Linked DNA regions of Homo sapiens: region 1 is linked to region 2. Evidence: fine-mapped expression QTL. Tissue or cell type: T cells. Region 2 holds a variant in brackets; the other region holds the start of a gene. All regions are shown on one strand. Distances are between the middles of the regions.

Evidence for each region. PIP is the estimated chance that this variant, and not a neighbour inherited with it, causes the effect.
Region 1: SASH3 starts here. The variant in region 2 is fine-mapped to the expression of SASH3 in T cells (TOPMed, PIP above 0.99).

Annotation. Positions count from the first base shown.
Region 1 is chrX:129,775,062-129,783,240 of GRCh38, forward strand. It overlaps SASH3 (SAM and SH3 domain containing 3), which reads left to right and starts at 4,888. Exons shown (of 8, transcript NM_018990.4): 1 at 4,888-5,093. The coding sequence starts at 5,037. It overlaps LOC124905215 (a long non-coding RNA gene), which reads right to left and starts at 7,473. Exons shown (of 2, transcript XR_007068328.1): 1 at 7,402-7,473; 2 at 3,514-5,218. RefSeq lists enhancers at 380-429, 1,769-1,858, 4,639-4,798, 5,049-5,128, 5,179-5,238 and 2 more.
Region 2 is chrX:129,740,158-129,748,336 of GRCh38, forward strand. It overlaps XPNPEP2 (X-prolyl aminopeptidase 2), which reads left to right. Exons shown (of 21, transcript NM_003399.6): 2 at 1,951-2,024; 3 at 3,804-3,914; 4 at 5,046-5,109; 5 at 6,079-6,183; 6 at 6,438-6,524; 7 at 7,450-7,596. Among named protein-coding and RNA genes, the nearest start is that of XPNPEP2, 5.3 kb to the left of the region's middle. The variant G/A (reference allele first, on the strand shown) is at 5,011.

The DNA of each region.
Region 1 (8,179 bases), 35 kb after region 2:
TTGGAATATACTAAAACCTTCCATTTATCTGTTCCCCATCATTCATACCACTTGCTTCCCCACCCCAATCACCTAGGCTAAATGTGACAGGAGTTTAGTACTTCACACGTTGACGACTTCCCTATACTTCACCCCCGCTTAATCGACCCTAGCTATTGCAGCTTTGCAGATGTGATGCGACTTCCAGATGTCCTCCCCATCCTGTTCACTCCCCTCTGGGCCTGCTTCAAGGTGGCTCTGTGGCACCTAGTGTGGCACCCAAACCAGCATCAGGTGCCAAGAGAAGGCTGCAAGCCGAGGGCTCCATAATTCTCTCACCTCCCCGTTCAGGAACTCCGCATCAGAGGCACTTCAGCTGAGTGGTTAGTTGTGTGGGCCCTGGCCAAGACCAGACCTGCATTTAACGCTGGGCTCCACTGCTTACTAGCTGTGTGGGCAATTCACTTAACTCCTCTGGGCCTCAGCTTCCTCCCTGGAAAATGGGGATAACAATAGTGCCTGACTTACCAGGTTGTTGTAAAGCCCACTGCCTGCCATGAAGTATAATAATTTTCAGCTAGATGTGGGGACTGGGGGGAATGGAAATAAGAATCTTTGGGGGCCGGGTGCAGTGGCTTACACCTGTAATTGCAGCACTTTGGGAGGTAGAGGCAGGAGGATCACTTGAGGCCAGGAGTTCAAGATCAGCCTGGACAACATAGGCAAAAAAAAAAAAAAAAAATTAGCCAGGAATGGTGGCACGTGCCTGTAGTCCCAACTACCCGGGAGGCTGAGGTGGGAGGATCATGAGCCCCAGGAGTTTGAAGCTGCAGCGAGCTGTGACCACACCACTGCATTCCAGCCTGGGCAACAGAGGGAGACCCTGTCTCAAATTAATTAATTAATTAATTAATTAATTAATTAAAACTTAAAGAATCTTTTGGGAGGTTTTTCCAGATATAAGTATCTCTCACTATCCAAACTCTTACTATCTCAAATTAGAAATATATCCATTCAGAGAGTGAGAGATGCTTTTGTACATGGTCTGGATCTTACCTGCCCCAAATATCCCACTCATGATCATCTACTAAATAAGAATTTCTTGGCTGAGTGCAGTGGCTCACACCTGTAATCCCAGCACTTTGGGAGGCCAAGGTGGGCAGATCACGAGGTCAGGAGATCAAGACCATCCTGGCTAACATGGTGAAACCCCGTCTCTACTAAAAACACAAAAAATAAGCCAGGCATGGTGGCATGCGCCTGTAGTCCCAGCTACCCAGGAGGCTGAGGCAGGAGAATAGCTTGAACCCAGGAGGTGAAGGTTGCAGTGAGCCGAGATCGCGTCACTGCACTCCAGCCTAGGCAACAGAGTAAGACTCAAAAAAAAATTAAATTAAATTAAATTTAAAAAAATACTTGGAGTGTGCTGGTGTGGGAGCTGCTTTATCTGAATGTGGCCTACGATGACCTTTGTGTCTTTGGTAGTCCTACATCCACCCTCTGAGGGTTCAGGTTGATTTCACTATCAGTGGAACCCCAAAACACACACACACACACACACACATACACACCCTGCAATCCTGCAGTATTGGCGCTAAATCAAGGTTCTTCTGCCCCAAATCTATACTTCTGGATACGTCTTTATATTAAACTACTCGCCTCCAGGGGTTGTGGTGGGATTAAACATCTGTCAAGTGCTTAATGTAGTGCTTGGTAAAGAACAAGTGCTGGGTAAATGTAAGCTTGCCACTCCACCTAGGATGTCAGCTCCCAGGTACAAGGGGCCCTGATGGCTATTTATTTTGTACCTCCTCCCGAGGCCTAGCACAAGGCTGTGCCCACAGCAAGTTCCTAGGTTCTGCCTGCCGGCCCATTATCAAGTTTAAGGTGACCTTGTTCCCTGAACTACTGACTCGTATCACTTCCTTAGCTGAGAGCTCTGCGTACCTCAAACAACATAACCTGTAAAATGCAAATATGTTACCCAGAAGGGAAAATCTATTAAACACATGTTTAAGGGTCATTAGCCAGCAAGGACCTGGCCTATTGGGATTCAGCCAGGGCAATCTGTTGGAAGAGAAAAGCTGGGGGAAGGCAAGTCCCGATGGGGGGTCCTGGACACCCCGCCTCCACTGGCCCCGGTCCCCAGGTGGCGGGGAGGAGGTGTTCCTGAACAGAGGAGACAGATCTGAAAAGGAGAACGAAGGAAGCCGTTGAAAACACTTGCTCCCTTCTGTCCTGGGAGCTGGTCACCTCTCCATATTTCTCTCCAAGGCACCCTCACCTCCCTCTCGCTGCCTTTTCCCAAGCCTCGCCAGCCCTGTGCCCTGGTTTGCTGGCCGCCTTTGAAGGTTCTGCGGTTAGTGTGTGATCTTCTGTCGCTGCCGGCGCTGAGCAAACAGGAAGCGGGCACATCCTGCGAGGCGGCCAGGGACGCAGCCGCTGCGCAGGCCCGGAAGATTCTGCGACCTGCTTCCTCCCTCACGGCTCTGGCTCCAGGTGCCCCAGGCCACTACAGCGGCGTCCCCAATCCCAGAACCCTCTGGGGCTGCCCTCCTGCTCCTGGTCACGCAGAGCCCCAAAGGCCCGATGGGTCCCCTACACGGCTGCCAGGCTACTGTATATGCCGAAAAGCCTTAACCAGTTACCGCGCTTGCTAGTGACCCTGGGCCGCCTGGGAGGGACTTTCAGGGTGGAAAACACAGGCCAGTGGGAAGGAGATCTGGGGTGTGGAATCTTTTCATGAGTCTGCCTGGCCGACTGAGTAGGCCAAAGAATGTATGGTTTCAGCTTAGGGAAGAAAGATCTTATCTTCCCTGAGCTCACCCTGAAGGTTGGATGGTCAGAGGGCATAAAGCAGAATCGGAGAGGAAGTCACGAGAACATCTTGGGAACAGGGGTGGACAAGCCTAGTATTTCACAAGTACCACAGAATTGAAAGCCTTAAAAATGTGCATACCTTTGACCCCAGCAATTCCTCTTCTGGATATTTCCCCTACAGAAAAAAAACTATGGATGTGAATATTTACCATAAGTATGTTCAATGAATAATTTAAAAATTTAAGCCAACCCAAGTTCATCAGCAAGGGCTTGGTGAAATAAGCACGGCACATCCACACAATGGGATGTTCCACAGCCGTTATAAATTACGTAGTTGAAGACTATTTCATAGCATGAGACAATCTTGATACTGTGTTCAGCTGGACGTAGTGGCTCACGCCTGTAATCCCAGCACTTTGGGAGGATGAGGCAAAGAGGTCACTTGAGACCAGGAGTTCAAGACCAGCCTGGGCAACATGGTGAAACCCTGTCTCTACAAAAAATACAAAAATTAACCAGGGTGGTGGTACGCACCTATAGTCCCAGCTACTTGGGAGGCAGAGGCACAAGAATTGCTTGAACTCAGGAGGTGGAGGTTGCAGTGAGCCGAGATCACGCCACTGCACTCCAGCCTGGGAGACAGAGTGAGAGACTCCATCTCGAAAAAAAAACAAAAAAGATACTGTGTTTAGTGTGAAAAGCAGACACCAATAGTGTGAATTATGACCTTTTTTAATTAAAAAATTTTAAACAGCTTTATTGAGGTATAATGGAGCTACAATAAACTGCACATATTTGAAGTATACAATTTGATACGTTTTGACATGTGTATTCCCCCATGAAATCATCACCACAGTCAAGATAGTGAACATATTCATCACTCCTAAAAGCTTCCTGTTACCCTGTGTGATGTCTCCCTTCCCTTCTCTCCCCTCCCCTTCTCCCCAAACCAATTATCTGTTTTCTGAGCAGTATGATTTTTGTAAAAAGAAAAAAAATGTTTATAGACAGAGAGTAGATAGATGCTTAAAACAGTGTAGAGGACAATGATGGGAAATTTTGAAATTTTTTTTGTTTATGTGTTTGTGAAATTGTATGACAAATACAAGTTGCTTTTGTAATACCAAGAAGTTATTAAAGTTATTAAAATCTGCCACAGACAACCCACAAATTGAATATACTGCATAGGTGTTTGATAAATGCCTGTTGGATACTTGCTAGAGGTGTGGAGTTGGCTGTAAGTGCTTTTCAGCTGTGGTGGTGATAAATATACTCATGATGGCTGAGGGGTACTGACTGGAGGGGTGACTGCTCTAGTGATGATGGCTTTAGGTGTACTGATGGCTGTAGGAGTGATGGCTGCAGGGCTGATGGCTGCACGGATGTGATGATGGTTGTAGGAGAGATGACTGTAGGGACGATGGTTATAGGGGTGAGAGGGTCATGAGTGCGGTTGGCTGTAATGTCCAGAAGGGTGACAGCTGTAAGGATGATGGCTGGAAGGGTGATAGCAGCAATGGTGATGACTGTAGAGGTGATGGCTGAAGGATGTCAACTGTAGAGGTGATTACCATAGTGACAATGGCTATAGGTGTGCTGATGGCAGCGGGGATGGCTGCAGGCCTGATGGCTGTAGGGGTGATGGCTGTATGGTGATGGCTATTGATAGGAGTGATGGTAGCAGTGGTGATGGTCACAGGGGTGATGGTAGTGGTAGTGATGGCAGTGACGACCTTGAAGACGTGAGTTGACCGGGAGCATTGATCCAACAGGCAGCCAGATGGTCCAACTTCTGGTTTCTGGATTCTGGTCAGTGAGATAAAGGGCTTGGGTACGCCATATAATGTCGAGCTGATTGTCCACCTCTAGGAAGATGGAGCAGAAGGACTGATGATGATCGACATGAGACAACAAGGTAGGGACTTTCTCTGACTGTTCAACCCAAGAGCCGTCTGCATCAGAATCTCTGGAGACTGAAGCTTGGACTTCCTTCCTCCCTAGGGGCCGGCAGGGGCTGCGATTGCTGTAAGAGTAGGTCACGTGGCAGGGCTTCCTGTATGCTGCTGCTGCCGGGTGTCCATGGCCCGCACCCCCAAGCTGCCACTGCAGCAGTCAGAGTGGCAGCTGAAGGCTCGGTTCATGCCGTGCCCCCGGGCAGTTCTGGTGAGGCTAAGCAAGAGGCCTCTGCATCTTGACACCTAGGAGAGCAGGGACGGAGTCTCCCAGGGTGGAGGACCATGCTGCGCCGCAAGCCCTCCAATGCCAGTGAGAAGGAGCCCACTCAGAAGAAAAAGGTGAGGAGCATTTTGGGAACTCACATCTTCCTTTCCTCTGCTTGCTCGACCCATCCCTTCCAAGACTCTTGGAAGTGGGAAGAGCCAAAGGCCATATGTTGAGTCTGTAGGTGAGGGCCACTCACCTAGAAGGCAACGGGACAGGGACCCAAAGGTTAACAGAAGTACAGAAGAGATGTTTAAAATTCTGGAGCAACAGAGTTACAGAATAGATCCTTAGAAATCTAGAGTCATGCAATTCAACCCTAGAAGAATGGGAAAAAAGATCTAAAATTAGGGGCCAGAATCTTAGACTAGAATTTGAGAATAACAAAATACAATGCTTAAGCTGAACCCTAAGCTTGTACTTAACTATCTCTCCTCTACGCTGGTCCTGCTGCCACTTCTGCCCCGGCCACGGCCTCTCAGGAGCCATCTCACTCAAAGGGCCCTGCTGGGCTGCCCAGCTTGGAGCCATGATGCTCACAGGACTGCCACCCCCTCCTCCACTTTGGCCATGGCCCAGACCCTGCCCACTTGGCTCAGCTCTGTGGTAGCTCCCAGGCCCTACCCGAGATGGAGCCAACCTGGAGATGGGGGCCTGAGGCCATTCCAGTCTTGGGGGAAAAGGCATCCGGAAGTGCAGTGGGATGCAGGGGGCATACAGGTTCTTCCTGGGTGGGGAATGAGAAATTAAGTTGAGGTGGTGAGTAGGAGTGAAGGCTGAGGAGGGAGGATTTTAAAGGCCAGGAGGAAAAACAGCTGTCATGGATGGCTGAGGTGTTCATCCCCCTGGGGCAGAGACCGGACTGGAAGAATCCTTGAAGGCTGTGCCAGATCTAGGATTTTGTGGTTGAATTTGAGGATTTCCAGATTTCTTTGGTTGGGTTTGAGGATTTCTAGACCTAATTCTTTAATTCAATTGAAGGATTCTCCCAGACAATCAGCAAGTATATCCTACACATCCAATGGGATGCTAGGACAGTCCCAAAGCAGGCCTGAACTAGGTCCAAGAGGCCCAGGCTATCCCCCGCCAATTTTCCCTGGAACTCAGCCCAGGTGCCCTATGGTGGATCCCCCTTGTCAGGGGAGTAGCTCAGAGATGGAGGCCAAGGCAGCTGAAAGACTGAGACTCGGGGCAGTGGGGTGTGCATCCTGCCCCAGCTCTCAGGTCCTGGGGTGGCTGCCACTTCCGGCTGTATTCTCCCCACCCCAGCTGCTTCTCTAAGGTTGCAGTGGTGGTGGGCGGGGGAGGGGGGAGGTTCATGAATCTTCACACGGGCTCTGTCATCCCCGTCCAAACCCTGCAGGGTGCTAGGCCCAGCAGGACTGCCATTGGCTGCCACTCCTAAGAGAGCAGGGCCACTTCCCCTTGCTCTCTGGCTGGTGGGGGTGGGAAACAGAGATTGCTCTATAGACACTGCTAGGCCTCAAACCACAGGGGCGCTGAGCTGGAGGAAAGTGTGAGAAAGAGCTGACACTTTGACACTGGGACCCTGTGCCACATCAGGAAGACGTACCTAGGGGCACACAGAAGCCAGAAGTCCCCTTTTTCTTTCCCAGCTTCAATTACCCAGATTCTGTGTTCGGCAGGCAAGTGGGCCCCTGGGATTTCCCCAGGTCTCTCCCAGGAGAAGGGGTCCTTTCGGGGAGAGTAGTCCAGGCAAACCCCACCCCAACCCCTGCCAGAGCCGGTGCCAGCCTCCAGAGCTGGGATGAGCTTGCCTCCACACACTCTGCTAGCCCCAGACTATGGAAATGTCCCCCAGAAGCCAAGCTTCCAGAAGGTACAGAGCATCTTCCCCAGGCCCAGAGGCAGCGGGCTGGCTGAATCACTGCTAGTCCCTTCTTCTCAGAGGCTGAGATGACGTGGTGGAGAGGAAAGCACAAAGGCAAGAGAGGCCTCTTTCTCCTGCCCCTGCTTCTCCTCTTGGGCCTGCCAATGGAGAATGTGCCAGACAGGGGGCAAGAAAGCTGAGCTGGAATCCTACCACGCTCTAGCTGTAGGACCTTGGACAGCTCATTGACTTTCTTTGGGCCTCAGTTTCCTCGCCTCTGAAAAGGAGGATAACTCCTAATCTGCCCCCCTCAAGAGGTTGTACAGATCACCCAAAAGAATAGATGTGAGAGTACCCTGTCACAAGTGTGCACGTGCATACCACACAAGGGGGTGCCTGCTGTAGGCATGGGTGGGGATAGGGAGACACTGCAAAGAAGAATGAGCCATGCCCCCAGTGCTGGCACAGAGAACACAAGACTTAATAGTACTAAGAGCCACCACAGAGTGAGAGCTCATGGGATGCCAGGCACGGTGCTGTGCATCTCTTACCTTGTTCACTCCCCACGACAACCTGGTGAGGTAGGGGCAGATATTGTCATTATCCCTATTTGACACTTGAGGCTCACAGAGGTGAAGCAACTTGCTGAAGGTCACACAGCTGGGAAGCTGCCGAGCAGGGATCCAAGCCAAGATTTGTCTGACTCCAGAATCTTGACCCCTTCTCTCTCCACTCTCTTGTCCCCTTGTTGATCTCAAAGGCGCTAGAAGAGTCTGATGAGCATAAAAGATTCAACCCATCAGCAGGAGAGCTCCGTGGGGCAGACCCAGATAGCTGTGGAATGAGTGACCTTCCAGCCAGCAGAGCAGAGGAGGGTGCGGGCCCTCTAGAATGGTAGGGCTAGGACATGGCGCCTCCCATGGATCGTGAAGGATTGGAGAGGCCCCAGGGTTGGGAGACAGACCTCTTAGCTGCCCTTTGGAGACTTTCACTTCCTTCAAGTTCTTGCTCTGCAAGCCCTTTGATCTGATTTCACCCAAAGGCCAGTGTTGGGGTATAGGAAGTGGAGAGGGATTTTTCCTGGACTTGGTTCCCCTAAGGATGCTCCTACTCTACCACATCCCCACTTTCTCCATGGCTCCCTTCCTACAGCACACCTCTAGTATGACCCCCACACCCTGCCAGCATGCACTTTGTATTTTCAGTGGCTCCTCACTGCCCACAGGATACATGCCCTTGGCCTGGCGGGCAAGAGCCTTCCATAGCCTTTTCTACTCCCCCACCCACCATCCCATCATCAGGCTCTCAACGTCTCTAACTTTCATTCTT
Region 2 (8,179 bases):
ATATCAGTGCCAACATTTTGCCAGGGATCTGTTTCTACAGAAATGGGTGTTTGTTTTCTTAAATGAACAGTATGGGTCGCATCTGATCCTTGAGTTTATGAGACCAAGATAAAATCACACAGGACGTTCATGGTGTTGAACCCCAGCCACCCTCCTTGCATCTGTAGCTCAGCCCACTCGAAAGTGTGGCTGGGCGTGGTGGCTCATGCCTGTAATCCCAGCTCTTTGGGAGGCCATGGCAGGCGGATCACTTGAGGTCAGGAGTTCGAGACCAGCCTGGCCAACATGGTGAAACACTGTCTCTATTAAAATTACAAAAATTAGCCAGGCATGGTGGCGCACGCTTGTAATCCCAGTTCCTCAGGGGGGGCTGAGGCAGGAGAATCGCTTGAACTCAGGAGGCAGAGATTGCAGTGAGCCAAGATTGTGCCACTGCACTCCAGCCTGGGCAAAAGAAGGAGACTCCATCTCAAAAAAAAAAAAAATGCGGGCGCGGGGGGCGTTGGGCGCAGTGGCTCACGCCTGTGATCCCAACACTTTGGGAGGCCGGGGCGGGTGGATCACCTGAGGTCAGGAGTTCGAGACCAGCCTGGCCAATATAGTGAAACCCCCATCTCTACTAAAAATACAAAAATTAGCTGGGTGTGGTGGGTGCATGCCTGTAGTCCCAGCTACTTGGGAGGCTGAGGCAGGAGAATCGCTTGAACCCGGGAGGCGGAGGTTGCAGTGAGCTGAGATCGCCCCACTGCACTCCAGCCTGGGTGACAGAGAGACTCTGTCTCAAAAAAAAAAAAAAGGAGGGGGGGCGGGGGAGTGTAATGTCTCCCCACACTCAGGGCCCCATTACCATCTAGGGAAATCCCTCCCTAAAAGACAGGGGGGTTAGAGGCAAGGACTATCAGAGACCGCTTTGTCTAATTCAAGCCCCTCCTTTCCAGAGGTCCAGAGCCTGGAGAACTTAGTCCAGTGCCTGGCACACAGTAGGCGCTTAGGAGATGGTTGCTCAATGAATATTGGGGGGGGGTCACTCTCGAGTCACTCTAAATTGGGGGCAGAGCCCAAACTAGAAACTAGATCTCCATATATTCTGTCCCTTCTGTGGCATCACCTTTTTCAGGCCCACCTCTCATACTTGGCAGAGTGGGAGGACTGAAAGTGCGCTCACCTCTTTTGTATTAAGATGGCCTGGGTTCAAATCCCTGTTCTACCACTGACTCCTGGTGGCACAAGTTAGACAAGTTACCAAATCTATCTGGGCCTTGACTTCCTCCTCTGCAGAAAGTGAACAATAATTTCCACCTCATAGTGATGTCACAAATATCAAATGAGATACTGTAGATGAATTGCTGCGTTCAGTATCTGGCACATAATAGGGTGTCTTTAAATACTAATTAATCCATCTTTCCCCACCATGGCAGACTAGGATTTCTGTCTAATATATTGAAAATGAGCCTGGAATGATAGGCAAAGATTTGGACTGTAAGAAACAGTGCAAGCAGGCCTTGAATTGAAGTCAACCCAATGTATCATACAATTAGATTTATAAAAGGCTAAAATGAAGGTGGGGTGATTATTTAGCGTGATCTTCTAGAGCATTTCAAAGAAAATTTGATAACAAAAATTTAATTTACACACAACTTTTCTACTTCACTAAACCCTGAAAAGACCCAATTAGATTAGAAGAAAAATTGATTTAATGAGCACTAAAACCCATCCAAAAGTGGCAATCACTTGTCTATGAAACAGATTTCTTTGATTGTGACCCAGGGTGCTATCCAGTTCAGCCTGATTTCCTATGAAATGTGATTATTTTTATCCTCAAGTAGAGCTGGCCAGCTTCGTGCGTTTCAAAGGATGGAGGCCCCGTGGGGCGGGCTGAGAGGATACTCCTTCCCTCTCTAGGAACTAGCTGGTCCCCAAATGACCCTGGATTTTTCTCCCGGCTTCTAGCTTGTGCCTGGGGCCACACAAAGCCAGTGGACCTTGGAGGGCAGGATGTGAGAAACTGTTCCACCAACCCCCCTGTGAGTGCCCCCTGCCCCCCGCGCACGGCCCCCCTGGCCCCACGCACCCCCCCACCCCTGCCCCACGCACCCCTGCACCGCAGCACCCCCGCCCTGCTCTATCATCTTCTCTATCCCTCATTGGGTCAGTTGGTAGCCCCTCCTCCTACCAGGCTTTCTCCTGATTTCCGGACTCTTGGGCCCCTCCCCCCTCCACTCCCTCCCCTCCACATCAGTGCCCTCCCCTCCCTCCCATTCATTCCCCCAGCAGGTTATCTGCTTCCGTCCTGATCTGGGCCTGGGAAACCCCTCTAGGAGGAGGGAGGAGGGCAGGAGGCCCCTAACTGGCCTTTGGCTGAGGCCAGGCAGAGGAAAGAAAAGACAAATTCTAGAGTGACAGCAAAAAGAGAAGCACAGAAGGGAAGAGGGAGGAAGACAGAGGTTAGAAGAGCCAACGGAGGCCGAGCACGGTGGCTGACGCCTGTAATCCCAGCACTTTGGGAGACCGAGCCAGGTGGATCACCTGAGGTCAGGAGTTCGAGACCAGCCTGGGCAACATGGTGAAACCCCGTCTCTACTAAAAATAAAAAAATTAGCCAGGCATGGTGGCGGGTGCCTGTAATCCCCGCTACTCAGGAGGCTAAGGCAGAAGAATTGCTTGAACCCAGGAAGCAGAGGTTGCAGTGAGCCAAGATTGTGCCACTGCACTCCAGTCTGGGCGACAGAGCAAGACTCTGTCTCAAAAACAAAACAAAACAAAACCAAAACCAAAGAAGAGCCAACGGAAGGGCAAGAGAGGGAGGCCTAGGGTGTGCAGACGAGGAAAAGGCCCAGCAGAAGGGGCTTGGGTAGTCAGCTTCCTAGCTGGAGACCAGAGTGATTCTTTCTACAATCAGAGTAGGGCTAAGGGGTAGGCATGCCAGCAGCACTGTAAGCCATGGGAAAAACGCAGTACATCTGCTAGCAATATCAACTTTATGGGACCCCTGGGGCAGGCAGGTGGGTGGGCAAACCACATTACTTTTATATTAAAACAAACATGGATATATCGTGGAGTAGAAAGCAAAACAGCACAAACGGAAACATGCTTTTCGTTTTAAAGCTAAAATGACCTGTAAAGAAATAGAGAACTGGTCTGGAAAGGGTCTTTCTGGGCAATATCTCAAACTGCTGGGGGCATTCATTCACTCTCCTCTGCCATTTGGGACCAGTGGGTGGCAACCTGAAAAAGCCCTGCCAAGGGAAGGTTGCCAGATAAAATACAGGACACCCAGTTACATTTGAATTTTAGATAACAAATAAGAATTTAGTGCAAGTATGCCCCAAATTGTGCATGTTTTAATATAATACTTACATTAAAACATTACACATTGTTTATTTGAAATGCAAACATAACTAGGTGAGTGTCCTGTATTTTTATTTGCTAATCTGGCAACCCTACCCCCAGGTAGCCAAAGAAGGACTGTCTGCATGGCCTGGCCCAATGCCAGAGCTCAGACCCCTGCAGTTCTCACCCACACCCATATCCCAGACTCAGGTCCCATTACTGTCACAAGGGGTCCCTTTCCAAACTCTCCAACACCTCCATCTCCACCCAGCCCAGGCATCTTAATCTAGACTAAGCAGTAACATCAGTTGCCACCCCATCCCTTCCCAAGCCAGGCCAGCCTAACTTCCCCCAACCGCTGCTTCAGGAGAGGCTGGGGGCTCTTCTGGAGGCCAGGGGCCCAGATGTCATTTTCTCTAAGCAACGTGTGTATCTGTTTGTTTGTGTCTCAATGTCTTCTTGTCATCTGTCAGTACCTTCCAGTTACTGTGGTCAATACCACAATGTCACTCACAGCCCTCCGCCAGCAGATGCAGACCCAGAATCTCTCAGCCTACATCATCCCAGGCACAGATGCTCACATGGTAAGAGACAGCTTCTCTCCCCCTTGCCCTCTCTGCTACCCTGGGTCAGAGACCACAAACAGGAGCTGTTAAAACTCAGAAGATGAAGACAGAGAAAGGATCTGATGGGCAAAGGGAGGGAAGTAGAGAGCATGGACACGGTAGTTTTAGGGCAAGTGAAAGAATGTATCCCTCTACATAGGCGGGCAGACATTGCCAAACCTCCTTAACCTCAAGAAATTAAACTATAAACAACTTCAGAATCAATTTTCATCAATTCCCAGAAGGCAGATCCAGAATGAATGTTTAGGGTATCCCTGCCCTAGGAGGTTAGAAGGTGGGCTGGAAATTGGGCTGGAAGAACTCCAAGCTCCCTTCTGGCCCAGGCCTTCCCATACTCTGTGGAATGGAGTAGCAAAATAATCCAAAATCCTGGGTTAAGGGAGCGCGGGGTTGGTTGTGGAGGGGGGCACCCATCCCACCGTTTCCCCTCACTAGCTCCACCCTCCACACCATCCACCTTTCCAACACCAGCCCATTTGGAAGAGAGGGCATTTTTAGTGTCAATGAGCTTGTTTAAATTAATTTTCCCACATGCTGGGAAGGGCTAAGAACGTTGGGTAAGTATCTGAACTTCCCTGAGCCTCAGTTTCCTCTTCTGCAAAGAGAAATGGGTCTGTAATGAGATCTATCTCCAAGGATTATGAGGATCAAAATATGATAATGTGTAAAGCCCTTTGCAGAAGTTATGATGTTCCCAGTCTACTGTGCTTGACTCAGGAGGGAGAAGGATTAGCTGGAGGGGAAAACCCAAACGAGCCAAAAGACAGGACCCTAGACTGCATAGAATTTGCAGGGCAGGGCAACAAGTCTCCTTTGCAGAACAGTCCAGTGTTACACTGAGTCCAGTGTGAACAGTGTGGGGGCGGGGGAGTTGAACTGCAAAAGATACGGTTGCTCAAAGGAAGGGAAGATATTGAAGGCTGGGAGAGTTACAGAGGGCTTCCTGGAAGAGGCACTTGGTGTGCTTGGGCTTGTAGCTGACAAGGGGTTGGAGCCGACAGACAGAAATAACTGGGATGTGGTTGGGGGCCTTTCATGTGGGATCTGATACCAC[G/A]AAAAAGGCTAATGATGGTGTTGTTGATTTCCTAGAACGAGTACATCGGCCAACATGACGAGAGGCGTGCGTGGATTACAGGCTTTACAGGGTCTGCAGGTGACAATCATTACCCAGCCCCATTGCTTTTGTTGGTAGATCCAGAGGTGGTCACAGAGGACCTAATGTGGCTAGTGTCTCAGCATCTGGGACCCCAGAACCTACTGTAGAGAAAACCCTTCTACTCTCTCTGTCTCCCTCCACCACCCCAAAACCATCAGATTCCCCAGGGCACATATCTCATAGCCCACCAGCCACTTTCTGTGTAGAAATGAGGCAGAGGCTGCCTTCCTGTGCTCATTACCTCTGCTGCAACCAGGCCCAGTCCAGCACTCCCAGGCTCCGTTTCTAAATAGTTGCTACTTCTACCTCTAACCGCTAAGAACCCGCTGATTCCTTTCACATGAGGGCTCATTTGGAGACAAAGTTTTCCTTTGCCGGTTGTTTTACGGACAACATCACTTCACATGGCCAAATGAGACACAAACATATAAGCCCTTGATGAGATCACAGTGTCTGAAGGGGCCTCGCACCGTGATCCTGGCCCATTGAATGAAATCCAAGCTTCCTTTCCTGATCCTCAAACATTCCTCCTTGGGCTTCAAACTACCCTGCCTCGTGCCTCGTAGGCTCTTTTTCCCTTTGCCAAAGTCTCTGGATTATTCTTGCCCAGCAGTCCTCAGCTGAGCCTCTGGTTTAGCCTCCCTATCAGCCACCGAGTCTTTACGCTGAGCCCCATCTTTCCTGAGAGCGCCTACATGCAGCCAAAAGTTGACCTCACTTCTGCTGAAAGTCCACAAGCAGCCCTCAACACAAAGCAGAGGTGCCTGATTCAGGACACCTTTCTGCCAGCTCCCCCCACAGCTCTTTTTAAGATCTCCTTCCTCACTTCTTTCCAATGGAGGAGAGAATCTCTTTCCAGAGGCCCCTTGTGGCATTCTCAGAGCCAGCACTGCATTGCACATCCATCAGCTAATGCCACGTTCCTCCCCTTCACCCTCACCTGCAAGTTTCTCTGTTCTGCCCCAGGAACTGCAGTGGTGACTATGAAGAAAGCAGCTGTCTGGACCGACAGTCGCTACTGGACTCAGGCTGAGCGGCAGATGGACTGCAACTGGGAGCTCCATAAGGAAGGTAGAAGGGCCGCATGGATTTGTTCCCCAAGTCTTGGGACCTGGACTAGGTTCAGGAAGGTATAGGTGAGAGCGTGCATGTAAGACCATGCTGGGCCTCTATGGGGAGCTTAGGAAATTTGAGGCCATCACTGACTTTCAAGGCTGATCTCAAGGAAGACACACATGGTAGGACCATCAGACAGAACCCCTGGCTGGAGAGCCTGGGGCTGGCCCTGAAGGTGACCTCTGCATTGCTTCCTATCTTTCTTTCAGTTGGCACCACTCCTATTGTCACCTGGCTCCTCACCGAGATTCCTGCTGGAGGGCGTGTGGGTTTTGACCCCTTCCTCTTGTCCATTGGTATGCTCTTCCTTCAGTCCCTGAATTTGTCCATGCTAACGAGGGTGACTCAGCTTCCCTAGGATATAAAGAAATGGACCTTGGTAGAAGGAGGGGCGGTGGGACTATAAAGATAGAGCATTTGAAATTGTAGTTGCAGAATGTTTTGCAATGAGGATGTATTCATGGATTGTGTAATTAAAATACATTTAAAAGAATCAGTACAAATATTTTAAAATTCATGAGTGCAGAGACCCAACCTAGAAGACTCAGTGAATCATTAAAGAGCTAGTGGATGAATAGGCCAGGATGTGCTTGAACCCAGAACCATCCTCTGTGCCCTGGAACCCTGCCAATGATGATGCTGGAATCACATGGTAACCCTCTTCTGGAAGGTAGCTTAGAAGGGTCAAAAGAGTTGGGAGGGCTTCTGAGTTTAAAAAAAAAAGGGCCCCTGAGAATACAACTCCCGGAGTTCTGGGGCCTCAGACAGCTGGCAAGCCCATTCCCCCAAAGGGGAGTCCTCATGAATATGTACTGAAAGGCTTGTGCTTTAGAACTGGCTTCTCTGCCAGCCTGTCCAATGGCCTGAACATCACCATTCCTTTTGACTGTGACACTGAAGCCCTGATAAAATAATTAGTGCCCAAGAGAAGGACCACCCACAGCCACTGGCAATGAAAAAGACAAGCTTAGCCAATTTGTGGCAGTCAGTGTTAGAGTAGGCTCAGGGCATTAGGCTTGGAAAGCAGAAAGAGGATGAGAAACATACCCCAGCGTGGGCATACATGCCGGGGGTGGGGGGTGGGCAGGCTGCTGGGGCAGGCTCCGGGCAGCTGGGCTGCAAAGGGAGGCAAAGGGAACCAGGACTAACTTTGCCTGAATCACAATTTTTTCCTGGGGTGTAAATGGGCAAGGGACAAGTGACTCCTTCTTGTCTCTGCAGACACCTGGGAGAGTTATGATCTGGCCCTCCAAGGCTCTAACAGACAGCTGGTGTCCATCACAACCAATCTTGTGGACCTGGTATGGGGATCAGAGAGGCCACCGGTTCCAAATCAACCCATTTATGCCCTGCAGGAGGCATTCACAGGTGATTCAGTAAGCCCAGTTTCCTTCCCAACTTGTAGCAACGCAGGTCCCGGCTGCTATTCCGTAGGTGGCAAACTTCATCATCAGAGGTACCAAAGCAGTGGTTTGCAAACCTTAGCATGCACCTGAGTCACCTGGGATGCTTGTTTAAAATGCAGATTTCAGGGCCCCCTCCCCTTGAGGAGTCTGAATCAAAATGTCCTCCGGCCATATTTAGAAAATGTTGGGTTAAAGAATGTTAGGATTTGAAACAAGATGGAGCAGGAAGGGAGGAAAGAAGGGAAACAGAGAAAGATGAGAGAAAATATCCAACCCCTTTCAAGAGAGAAAAAATCATGATATGATTTGCTTGCCTGGTGGCAGAGACTGATCCATAATGAATCATTCAGACCTTTACTTCTGACCCTCTTGTGATGAAGAATTTAGATTTGTGAGATGGCTGGGGTCAGGTGGGCCAGGAGTGGACAGAGGAAGTAAATAACTAAGTTCAGAGTCATTCTGTAGCACAGATTACAGTTCAGGTTTTGCTGGACCAATCAGGAAGGTTAGAAAAATATAACATCAATAACCTTGACCCCGTTGAC